Linked DNA regions of Homo sapiens: region 1 is linked to region 2. The links come from fine-mapping of genetic effects on gene expression. A gene starts in region 2. The other region holds a variant in brackets. All regions are shown on one strand. Distances are from middle to middle.

The links. PIP is the estimated chance that this variant, and not a neighbour inherited with it, causes the effect.
Region 1: its variant is the best candidate, but not a certain one, in a credible set for the expression of DMKN in NK cells (Gilchrist 2021, PIP 0.77).

What each region holds. Positions count from the first base shown.
Region 1 is chr19:35,480,478-35,485,847 of GRCh38, forward strand. No RefSeq gene overlaps it. Among named protein-coding and RNA genes, the nearest start is that of KRTDAP, 7.3 kb to the right of the region's middle. RefSeq lists a silencer at 4,252-4,341. The variant C/CAA (reference allele first, on the strand shown) is at 2,223.
Region 2 is chr19:35,510,425-35,515,794 of GRCh38, forward strand. DMKN (dermokine) reads right to left here and starts at 3,225. Exons shown (of 16, transcript NM_033317.5): 1 at 2,626-3,225; 2 at 2,166-2,366; 3 at 1,997-2,053; 4 at 1,339-1,389; 5 at 987-1,169. The coding sequence starts at 3,051. RefSeq lists an enhancer at 1-64.

The sequences.
Region 1 (5,370 bases), 30 kb before region 2:
TTCCCCTTTCCCTTTTTTTCTACAGTGGCTTTTTTTTTTTTTGGATGGAGTTTCGCTCTTGTTGCCCAGGCTGGAGTGCAATGGTGCAATCTCGGCTCACTGCAACCTCTGCCTCCTCCTGGGTTCAAGCAATTCTCCTGCCTCAGCCTCCCAAGTAGCTGGAATTACAGGCATGTGCCACCACACCTGGCTAATTTTGTATTTTTAGTAGAGACAGGGTTGCTCCATGTGGGTCAGGCTGGTCTCGAACTCCTGACCTCAGGTGATCTGCCCACCTCAGCCTCCCAAAGTGCTGGGATTATAGGCGTGAGTCACCGTGCCCGACTCTTCTACAGTGTTTTTGTTGAAGAAGCTGGATTATCAGTTTTCTAGAATTTCTCACAGGAAATGCCAAGGTTGGGGGGAGTTATTAACATCTTTCCTGTAGAATCCTTTACTGTGTTCCTCTGTGCCTTTTCATCCCCCTGCAAACTGGTAGTTAGATCTAGAGTCTAGAGTTTTAATCAGGTTTGGAGTTGATTTTTGGCAAGAATGCTTCCTATGTGGGGCCCTGTGCTTTCTGTTGCATCAGGTCTGCAGAAGCTTGTCTCTTCTCTCTCTGGGTGTTGGATAGATACATGGGTTCACTGGTTGTGAGCCTGATCCACCACCATAAATTTCCCCATCAGCATTTCACCTGCCGGGTTTGGCAGTCATTAATGTGAAGGGATTAGCATGTGCTACTCCAAAGTATGCTGCTTTAGCATAAGGATTATTTTGAGTAGAAGGCAATTAAGAAGCAGCAGACAGAAGAGGAACTCTCTGTCCTCTCCCTTTCTGCCTAAAGCAGGGTATACATTTCCCATCAGGTAGAGGAGATAACTCAACGCTGGAGACTTGAATCTGCATAAGCAAATCTTGCTAAATAACCCTTTATCTTCCATTAATTTCCCCTGTATATTTTACTTACCTTCCCACAATTTACATCACCTGGATGTCCAAATCCCTTTTTCACCGTTTTGTCACTTTTCCACAATTTTTTTTTTTTTTTTTTTTAGACAGAGTCTCACTCTGTCGCCCATGCTGGAGTACAGTGGTGTGATCTGGGCTCACTGCAACCTCTACCTCCCAGGTTCAAGGGATTTTCATGCCTCAGCTCCTGGGTAGTTGGGATTACAGGTGTGCACCACCACACCTGGCTAATGTTTTTGTATTTTTAGTAGAGATGGGGTTTCACCATGTTGGCCAGGCTGGTCTCGAACTCCTGACCTCAAGTGATCCGCTTTCCTCAGCCTCCCAAAGTGCTGGGATTACAGGCATGAGCCACCATGCCCAGCTTACTTTTCCACGATTTATCACCCTTTGTTAAAACGGTATATGAGCCTCAAGCCTGGCCACTTCTTTAGGTTTTCACTTCTTTTCTGTGAAGCTCCTGGATGCATGCATAATAAGCCTTTTCTCCTGCTAATCTATCTTTTGTTAATTTTTTTTTTTAAGATGGAGTCTCACTCTGTCGCCCAGGCTGGAGTACAGTTGTGTGATCTCGGCTTACTGCTACCTCTGCCTCCCAGGTTCAAGCAATTCTCCTGTCTCAGCCTCCTGAGTAGCTGGGACTACAGGCATGCGCCACCATGCCCAGCTAATTTTTGTATTTTCAGTAGAGATGGCGTTTCACCATATTGGTCTGGCTGGTCTCGAACTCTTGACCTCAGGTGATCCACCTGCCTCGGCCTCCCAAAGTGCTAGGATTACAGGCATGAGCCACTGTGCCTGGCCTCTTTTGTTAATGTAATTAGCATGCCACAGCCACTGAACCTAAGACAGTAGAAAAAAATGTTTTTTTCCTTCCCTACAGATGCTAGCCTACATTCATTATTTTATTAAATTTTGAAAAACGAAAATATTCTATTATTTCTTTTGCATTTATTAGTTTCAAATTCTCGTATAAAGAAAAATTGTGCCAGCTGGGCATGGTGGCGCATGCCTGTAATTTCAACACTTTGGGAGGCCAAGGCCAGAGGATCACTTGAGGTCAGGAGTTGAAGACCACCCTGGGCAACATAGCAAGACACCCATCCTACAAAAAATTTAAAAATATACCAGGTGTGGTGGCTTGTGCCTGTAGTTCCAACTACTCAGGAGGCTGAGGCAGGAGGATTGCTTGAGCCAGGGAGGTGAAGGCTGCCTCCAGCCAAGATCATGCCACTGCACTCCAGCCTCGGTGAAAGAGCAAGACGCTGTCT[C/CAA]AAAAAAAAAAAAAAAAAAAAAAGAGAGAGAGAGAGAAACTGTTTACCCTGAAGTATATAGTTCATAGAGGAAAGTAAGGATGAATCCTTGATTCATTTCCTTTATTTACCAGTTTTTTAAATGAGTTGATTCCCAGAAGCCTCCCAAAGTAATCACTTAGTTTGGCTTTGGTTTTTAGTCCCTTTATGTCCTGGCTGAGTATGACAGGGACTTTTTTTTTTTTTAAGTTCATTTATGAATGCCAAATTCAAAGTTACTTTCCCCAGTTTTCTTACCCTGGTGCAAAACTATCTCCTCCCTTCTGTCAGATTTAAACATATCGTTCTAAGGTATCTAGTGCCTTCTCCCTGGATGCTTCCTTTATCGTAAGTATCAACTGGATCATAACTCCTTGAAGGCCTTCTGCATAGCACTCAACATCATGCCCAAGGCCGTGCTTCTCAAACGTTATTCCACATGTGAATCATCCAGGGGCAGGGGTCTTGTTAAAATTCTGATGCATTAGCTCTGGGTGAGCAGAGCTTCTGCATTTCTAGCAAGCAAGCACCAAGTGATGCTGATGCCGCTGGCTCGGGGACCACACTCTGAGTAGCAAAAGGGTGTGGTAAATGTGAGAAATCAGTTTCATTCATTCAGTTAAGAGGCACCTACTCTGGGTCACTGCATGGACTAGGCCCTACCACTTTACAGTGCAAAGCGTTTTTTTGGTGTTTGTTTGCTTTACTAGAAAGTTTTGATTTTAATTTATTCTTTTGAATATGTAATTTGCACATGGTAAAACATTTTTGTTCATAAAATCCAAAAGGGTACACAGTGAAAGTATCTAACTTTTCAAAAGTTATCACTGTTACTTCTCAAGTTTTATTCCAGATAATAGCAGATAATATGCAGATAATAGCATATATTTGTACCATATCTTTATTTTAACCACATGGCAGCATAATGATCTGCCACTTTCTTTTTTTCATTTTACTCTATCTTGGAGATTGTTTCATAGCTCAGTGTATATCTCTACATCCTGTTGAACAGATGGTATAGTATCCACACAAGATTCATTTGTTGGCCAGGCATGGTGGTTCACACCTGTAATCCCTGCACTTTGGGAGTCCAGTGCAGGCGGATCACCTGAAGTCAGGAGTTCAAGACCAGCCTGGCTGACGTGGCAAAACCCCATCTCTACTAAAAATACAAAAATTAGCCGGACATGGTGGCGGGCACCCATGTAGAAGATGTAATTCCATCTTCTCAGGAGGCTGAGGCAGGAGAATCGTTTGAACCTGGGAAGCAGAGGTTGTGGTGAGCCAAGATTGCACCACTGCACTCCAGCCTGAGCAACAGAGTGAAACTCCGTCTCAAAAAAAAAAAATGCATTTGTTATTGTTTTTATAAAGTATAAAATGAAGAGTGACTACTTCCTGCCTTTTATTAAATAAAGGTTATTTAATAAGATTTGCTTATGCAGATTCAAGTCTCCAGTGTTGAGTTATCTCCTCTACCTGATGGGAAATGTACAGGTCATCCCCAGGGAGAACAGGTGCTATGTCTTCCATTCTTTGAATCCTCTGAATGGCCTGACCCATGTTTGTGCATTTTGTCAATTTCACATGATCTAGCTAGTATACATCTGTCACTCATGTGCACAGCTTGTCTACACTTCACTTTGTCTTTTTCTTTTTGGTTCAGATTGCAGTCTCTCTAGACTCCAATTGTTTCTTGACTGTGTATTCTGTCAGCACTTGCAAATTGATCTGGTGTTCTCTGGCTTTAATAATATGTTATTGTGAAATACAACATGCATAGGTGTGCATAAAATGTACATATTTAAAGAAGAAATGAAACATGATATAGAAGTGGCTTCTGTCACACACCGTCCCCCCTTATCTCCTATGTGCCACTCTCCTATCACATGGGATCTCTCCATCTAAGGGGCAACTACTATCCTGATTCTGGGTTAATCTTAAGTTCTCTGACGTTCCTTTTTGAAGTGGTTCTCAGACTTTAGTGAATCAGACTTGCTTAGAGGGCTTGTCAAAACACAGATTGCTGGGCCCCACCCCTGGTTTCGCACTTAGTAGATCTGAAGTGGGGCCCAAGAATTTGCATTTCTTTTCAGTTCCCAGGGGATCCTGGTGCTGCCAGCGTGGGGACCACACTTTGAGAACTACCGCCTTATCTCAGAGATACTCTTAACTTGTGTATCGTGACTCCTAGTCCCCTGGGGATGCTTTACTCCTCCCCTAAAACCTAGTCACTCGATGGGTGTCCCTTAAGCACCTCCCCTCTTCTTCCTGTACTCCATTTCCTATCACCTAGTTTGTGAGTGCACAATCTTCACTAAGTATTTCAACTGATTGTGGCATTTCACCAGTGTCCATAGTTTTCTTCTCTGTTGGTTATTCCATTTATAGCTTTCCTCTCCTTTGTGTGTATTGGAAGGAAGAGCATAAGCAACTTTTTTTTTTTTTTTGACAGAGTCTTGCTCTCTCACCGAGGCTGGAGTGTAGTGGTACAATTTTGGCTCACTGCAACCTCCGCCTTCCGGATTCAAGCGATTCTCGTGCCTCAGCCTCCTGAGTAGCTGGGATTACAGACATGCATCACCACACCCGGCTCAGTTTTGTATTTTTAGTAGAGATGGGGTTTCACCATGTTGGCTAGGCTGGTCTCGAACTCCTGACCTCATGTGATCCGCCCACCTAATTTTGTGTTTTTAGTAGAGATGGGGTTTTGCCATGTTACCCAGGCTGGTCTCAAACTCCTGACCTCAAGGGATACACCCACCTTGGCCTCCCAAAGTGCTGGGATTACAGGTGTGAGCCACCGTGCCCGGCCAGGAACATTTACATGTCTCATTCACCTGGTCTGTAAGCGCCTTGAAAGTAGGAACCAAGTTTAATTTCCCTTGTAGTCCACTTCCTCGATTAAACTGCAGTTGATGGTTTACAAACGCAGTTGCTTATAAAGGCCAAAGGCAATGTAAACAAGTGAAGCTTGCCAAGTAGAAAGTTCCCTGGAAGCCATGTCCTGTGTAAAGAGGGCAGCTGCTACTTGGCTTTAAGCCAGTCGCAGGTCCACTGTTCTCTAATCTTCCCAGTTTTCAAGAGAAACCAGAAACAATTCCAACTAGTTTAGTATTTTAAGTACACA
Region 2 (5,370 bases):
CATGGAGAAGGCCAGGTGTGGCCGAGGGTATTCGGAACTACGCAATGATTTGGAGAACCTGAGCTGCTGCCCACCGCAGGCCGGGGGTGGGAACCCCTGGAGCCCGGCCGCGCAGTAGCCGCGATCCTGCCACCAGGGGGCAGCAAGTGGAAGGGACCCTAGAGCCCTCACCTGGGAGCGGCCGTAGCTGCCTTGGTCACCATTCCCAGAACTGCCCTAGATGGGGGAGAGGAGGATCATACGGGGAGCGGCGCATGAGAGCAGCTCAGGTTATTCGGCTTATTGTGTCCACGCACCTCCTCCTGTCTGACACTTTTCCCGACCCCCGAGGAAGCCAGATGTGGCTCCCTCTCCAGCTCGACTCCAAGACACGGGATGGGAGAGGCCGTCAGCCAAGGGGTTGGACAGGCCATTGACCAGGAGGCTGGAGAGACTGCCGGCTCTGGAGTCAGTGAGGCCCGGGGCCCTGGGGTGGCAGCTGCGGGGTCACAGCGCCCCTTCCTGCCCTCACACCCATCGTGCAGGGGCCCCATGTGTGAATGTCGTCTGCACCGTCGCTCTGTCAGCGTCCGTAGGTCTCCCGGATCACAGTCCTGCCCCCATTCTCCTGGGAGCTTCCCAGACAAGTGTCATATTCTCCCATGTCCCCCTCTTTCTCCGCCACCCCACGGTCTCCTGAGACTTGCCAAGTGGACTTGACTGCAAGAGCTTAGACAGGCGGGATAACGTCCCCACCATCACAGAGTGGAAAATAGGGATACAGAGTCAGAAGCAGTGGGGTGGCTCTGGCAGAAACGATAGTGCGCGCATCAGGGGCACAGCATGGGTGGGGAACAGGAGGCTGAGGGAGCCTCAGGGTGACGACTATCAGCGAGGCCGCCCATCCTCGGGCAGCGGCAGCTTTCAGAGAAACTTGGAGCCCTCTCCCGGCAGGGACCACTAGGGCCTCACCCCATCTCAGCCTTCCACAGAGGTGCCAAACTCACCCAGGAGGACTCACTGCCGCTGTCACCTCTGCTGCCACCACTGTTGCCACTGCTGCCACCACTGCTGCCGCCACTGCTGCCGCCACTGCTGCTGCCACTGCTGCTGCCACCACTGCTGCTGCCATTGTTGTTGTCACCATTGCTGCCACTGCCACTGCTGCCCGACTGTGAGCCGCTGCCTCCCTGAGGGGCAGGAAGGGAGCAGGGCTGGGATTAAAGACAGAGCACCAAGACGGGCCCCTCCTCCCTCCCTCTCCACCCAGGCCATATTCCATGATGCCCAGTCTAAGGGGAGCAGAACTTCTCCATTTCCTCCTGGTGCACAACTCCTGGGTTGCCCCTCTCCACTCACCCCAGAGTTGCTGGAGCCTCCACCTGAGCCAGATGGTGGGGGATTCGTGCACTGTCGAGGGAAAGGGATGGTGAGTTTGGGGACGGTGAGTTTGGAGACGTTGGCCTCGGCCATGGACACAGGCCAGGCCTCTCCCATTCTTTGGGGCTTGGCTTCCTTTCTCCTAATGTGTTTCTCCCACCTCCCCTTCCCATCTGCCTCCTCCCCAGGCCCAGGCCCGTCTCTTCCTCCTTTTTTTTTTTTTTTTTTTTTTGAGACAGGGTCTCACTCTGTTGCTCAGGCTGGAGTGCAGTGATGCGATCTCGGCTCACTGCAACCTCCATCTCCCAGGTTCAAGTGATTCTCCTGCCTCCGCCTCCCAAGTGGCTGCAATTACAGGCGCATGCCACTATGACCGGCTGATTTTTGTATTTTTAGTGAAGACAGGGTTTCACCATGTTGACCAGGCTGGTCTTGAACTCCTGACCTCAGGTGATCCACGTGCCTTGGCCTCCCAAAGTGCTGGGATTACAGGTGTGAGCCACCTCGCCCAGCCCCATCTCTTCCTCTCACCCCAATCCCTCCACTCCCCCATCTTGCTTTCCTCTTTGTCTTTCCCCAGCTCTCTGTAGCCTGCACCCAGTGGCTTCTTCATTTGTTCCCAGCCCCTTCCTCTTACCCCTTCATTCTGGTTGCTGGCTCTCACTGAACCATAGCCAGGCTGGGCCACAGCTCCCTGCAGAGAGGGTGAGACTGAGAGTAGGATCCAGAGGGACCAGGGAGGCACGCGGAGCATGTGGGCTTGGAGGGAGGGAGGTGGCAGGTAGCAGGTCTGGGGGTGACTTTACCTGAGTGTTGGTCCCAAAGTTTGGTGGCCCTCCATTGCCTCCTTGACCCCAGGGAGCTCCCTGAGGATTCATTCCAAAGCTGCCTGCTGAGTTTCCGGGGTATCCGTGGACCCACGGAGTCCCCAGACCTCCAGGATTGCCCTGGCCCTGGCCTCCAAGGCCACCTTGAGAGCCAAAGATGCCATGGCCTCCAGAAGTTTCCTGCAAGAACAACATACCTGCACTTAGTGGGACCATCTCTGACCCTGGTAGAGAAGAGCCAGGGCAAATCATAAAGAGACCAGGAGAGAGACAGGCAGAGGGACTCCAGGGTGGCATAGGAGGGGGGCAGAACATAGAAGGAAGCTGCCCCAGAAGCCTGCAAGTAAGAGATCCATCCATCCTTTCAACCGTTTCCCAAGAATCTCAGCCCAGCAGCCCACAGCCTCCCATTTCCACATGCAGCCCCACAGCCACTCACCCAAGCACCATTGTGGCCAGGCACCCCCTGCCAGGAGCCGCGGACAGCATCTGCTCCGTGTCGAATGACATCTTCTGCCTGTCTGCCAATCTCGTGCCCAGTGTTTCCCAGAGCATGGGCTGCTTCCCCGACCCTGTTGCCCAAAGCATCTGCTACGCCAAAGCCTGGAACCTGCCTGACTCCAGTGCCAACTGCTTCTCTGGTCCCTTGGCCAAGGGCCTCACTGACTTTAGAGCCAGCTGCCCCTCCGGCCTCTTTGCCAATGGCCTTTCCCACCCCTTCGCTCAGGGCGTCTCCCAGGCCATGTCCAAGGGCCTCCCCAATATTTGTCCCAGTGCTTTCCTCTCCGCTCTGCAGGGGGCCAGCCTCCCCACTGCCCAGGCAGAGGGCCAGCAGGAGGCAGGCCAGGGGCCCCTGGAACTTCATCTCTGCCCAGCCCCCTCTCTCTCCAGAGTGTCTTCCTCCCACCAGGGTCTCCTCCTTGCCGCCCTTGCTCTGCGTCTCTGTGCCCTCCTCTGTCCTCCTCCTTCCGACTCCCTGTCCTCCCTCCCTCTGGGTCTGCAGCCTTCTCTCTCCTGTCCTCAACTGCCTGGGCTTCTCAGAGTCCACCTCCCTGTCACTACTCCTTATACTCTAGGTTGGGAGAAGGTGACAGGGCTGGGCAACCTGAGGTCCCTCCCCGCAGTGACTCAGGGCCCAGCCACCAATAGGGTAATCAGCTGTTATTGTGAGTCTGAGAGTCTCTGTCGAAACAGAGAGTGAGCCGCATCAGGGAGGGAGGGAGAAATGGATGAGGTGATGCAAAAGTGCTCCCATTTCCCAACCCCAGGCATTCGGGGAGCTGGGTGGGGGCAGGGGCATCTAAGGAGACAGGTTGTCGTTGGCTCCTGGAGGCGGTGGGGTGGGGGCAGACTTAGAAGAGAGGAGTTACTGGCAGGACCCCACCAAAGGAGTAAGGACAGGGAAGCCCCAGGGGACAGGACCCACCCAGGCTCAGCCAGCCTGGCTCAGGGGCTCCAGAGTGACAGGCATTGCCCGTCCTCGGCCTGGCCTTTCTCGGTTTCAGCACCTCAGCCTCTCCTCTCCCTCTCCCCTCCCGCATTGCCACCTACAGGTGACTGCCTTCTTGTTCCTCCACACCTTCCAGCCCACAGAGAGAGACTGGCAAACACGGGGCTGCGTGTCAGTTTCTGAGATTCTGGGGAGAGCCCCCGGGGGGACCCTCGGTGTCGGGGAAGGAGGTGGCCATAGCCCTTTGAGTGGTCAGCAGGGTGTCTCAGCGTTCAGGCTGCTCCCGGCTGAGAAAGCTGGGCGCGGAGCAGGGCAGCCAGGCGCGCCAGCCACCCCCAGGGAACGAGTGGGAGGGAAGGCCAAGGGAGGGAGCCGCTGACCCAGGCACCCATCCTGTTTACGCAGCCCTAGAGGGGCACGTGTGAGTATAAGCGCCTATGAGGGGCGGGACTGGGCCAGCTCACCCCACCCATCCCCCAGGCCAGGGGCCAGGGCAGCAATGGCAAGCGAGAAGAGGGTAGCGCAAGGTCAGGAGCCATCCGTGAGAGCCACGGCCCTCTCCCCAGTCCCAGCTCGGGATACAGAACCTGGGAGCCTCCCCCCGCCTCACCCCTGCCCAGCAAGTGTGGCTGCTTCTCTATTCCCAGGGGCCACAGGGCCTCCCACTGTTTCGTATCACTGGGGTTCATCGCCCAGTTAGGAGGGGCCAGTTTCCATCAGCCTTTCTCAATGTCTCTCAGTCAGTCTCTCTCTTCTCTCCACCCCAATATCCGCACCCCAGCTTATAACATCCAACACTTCTTACCTTGTAAACACTATCCCCATCTGTCCTCCTCAGCTCCTACTTCCCTGTTATTCCATCTCTGACTCGTTAATGATGATAATAGCGATGGTGGTAATAATAATAATAATAATAATAATAATTACAGCTCCAGCTTATCAGCGGTTCTGTATGTACCCAGCATTGGACTAAGCACAAGCAGTTTAAGAATTATACAACTCTGGGAGATGGTTCTTTTTTTCTAGAGACAGGGTCTTGCCCAGGCTGGAGTACACTGGCACAATTGTAGCTCACTGCAGCATCGACCTCCTGGGCTCAAGCGATCCTCCTGTCTCAGTCTCCCAAGTAGCTGGGACTATAGATGCACACCAGCACACCCAGCTAATTTTTTTTTTCTTTTTGAGACAGAGTCTTACTCTGTTGCCCAGGCTGAAGTGCAATGGCACGATCTTGGCTCACTGCAACCTCCGCCTCCCAGGTTCAAGTGATTATCCTGCCTCAGCCTCCCAAGTAGCTGGGATTACAGGCGCATGCTGGGCCTGTAATCCCACGCTGGGCTAATTTTTGTGTTTTTAGTAGAGACAGGGTTTCACCATGTTGGCCAGGCTGGTCGTGAACTCCTGACCTCGTGATCTGCCTGCCTCGGCCTCCCAAAGTGCTGGGATTACAGGCGTGAGCCACCGCACCTAGCCTCCAGCTAATTTTTTAATTTTTATTTTTGTGGAGATGAGATCTTGTTGTGTTGCCCAGGCTGATCTCAAACCCCTGGGCTCATACGATCCTCCTGCCTTAGCCTCCCAAAGTGCTGGGATGACAGGCATGAGCAAACAGTGGTATTACATTATGCTTGCTGCAGCTCCTGCACTCTCTTTGTTTTTTGTTTGTTTGTTTGTTTTGTTTCGAGATGGAGTCTCCCTCTGTTGCCCAGGCTGGAGTGCAATGGCGCAATCTCG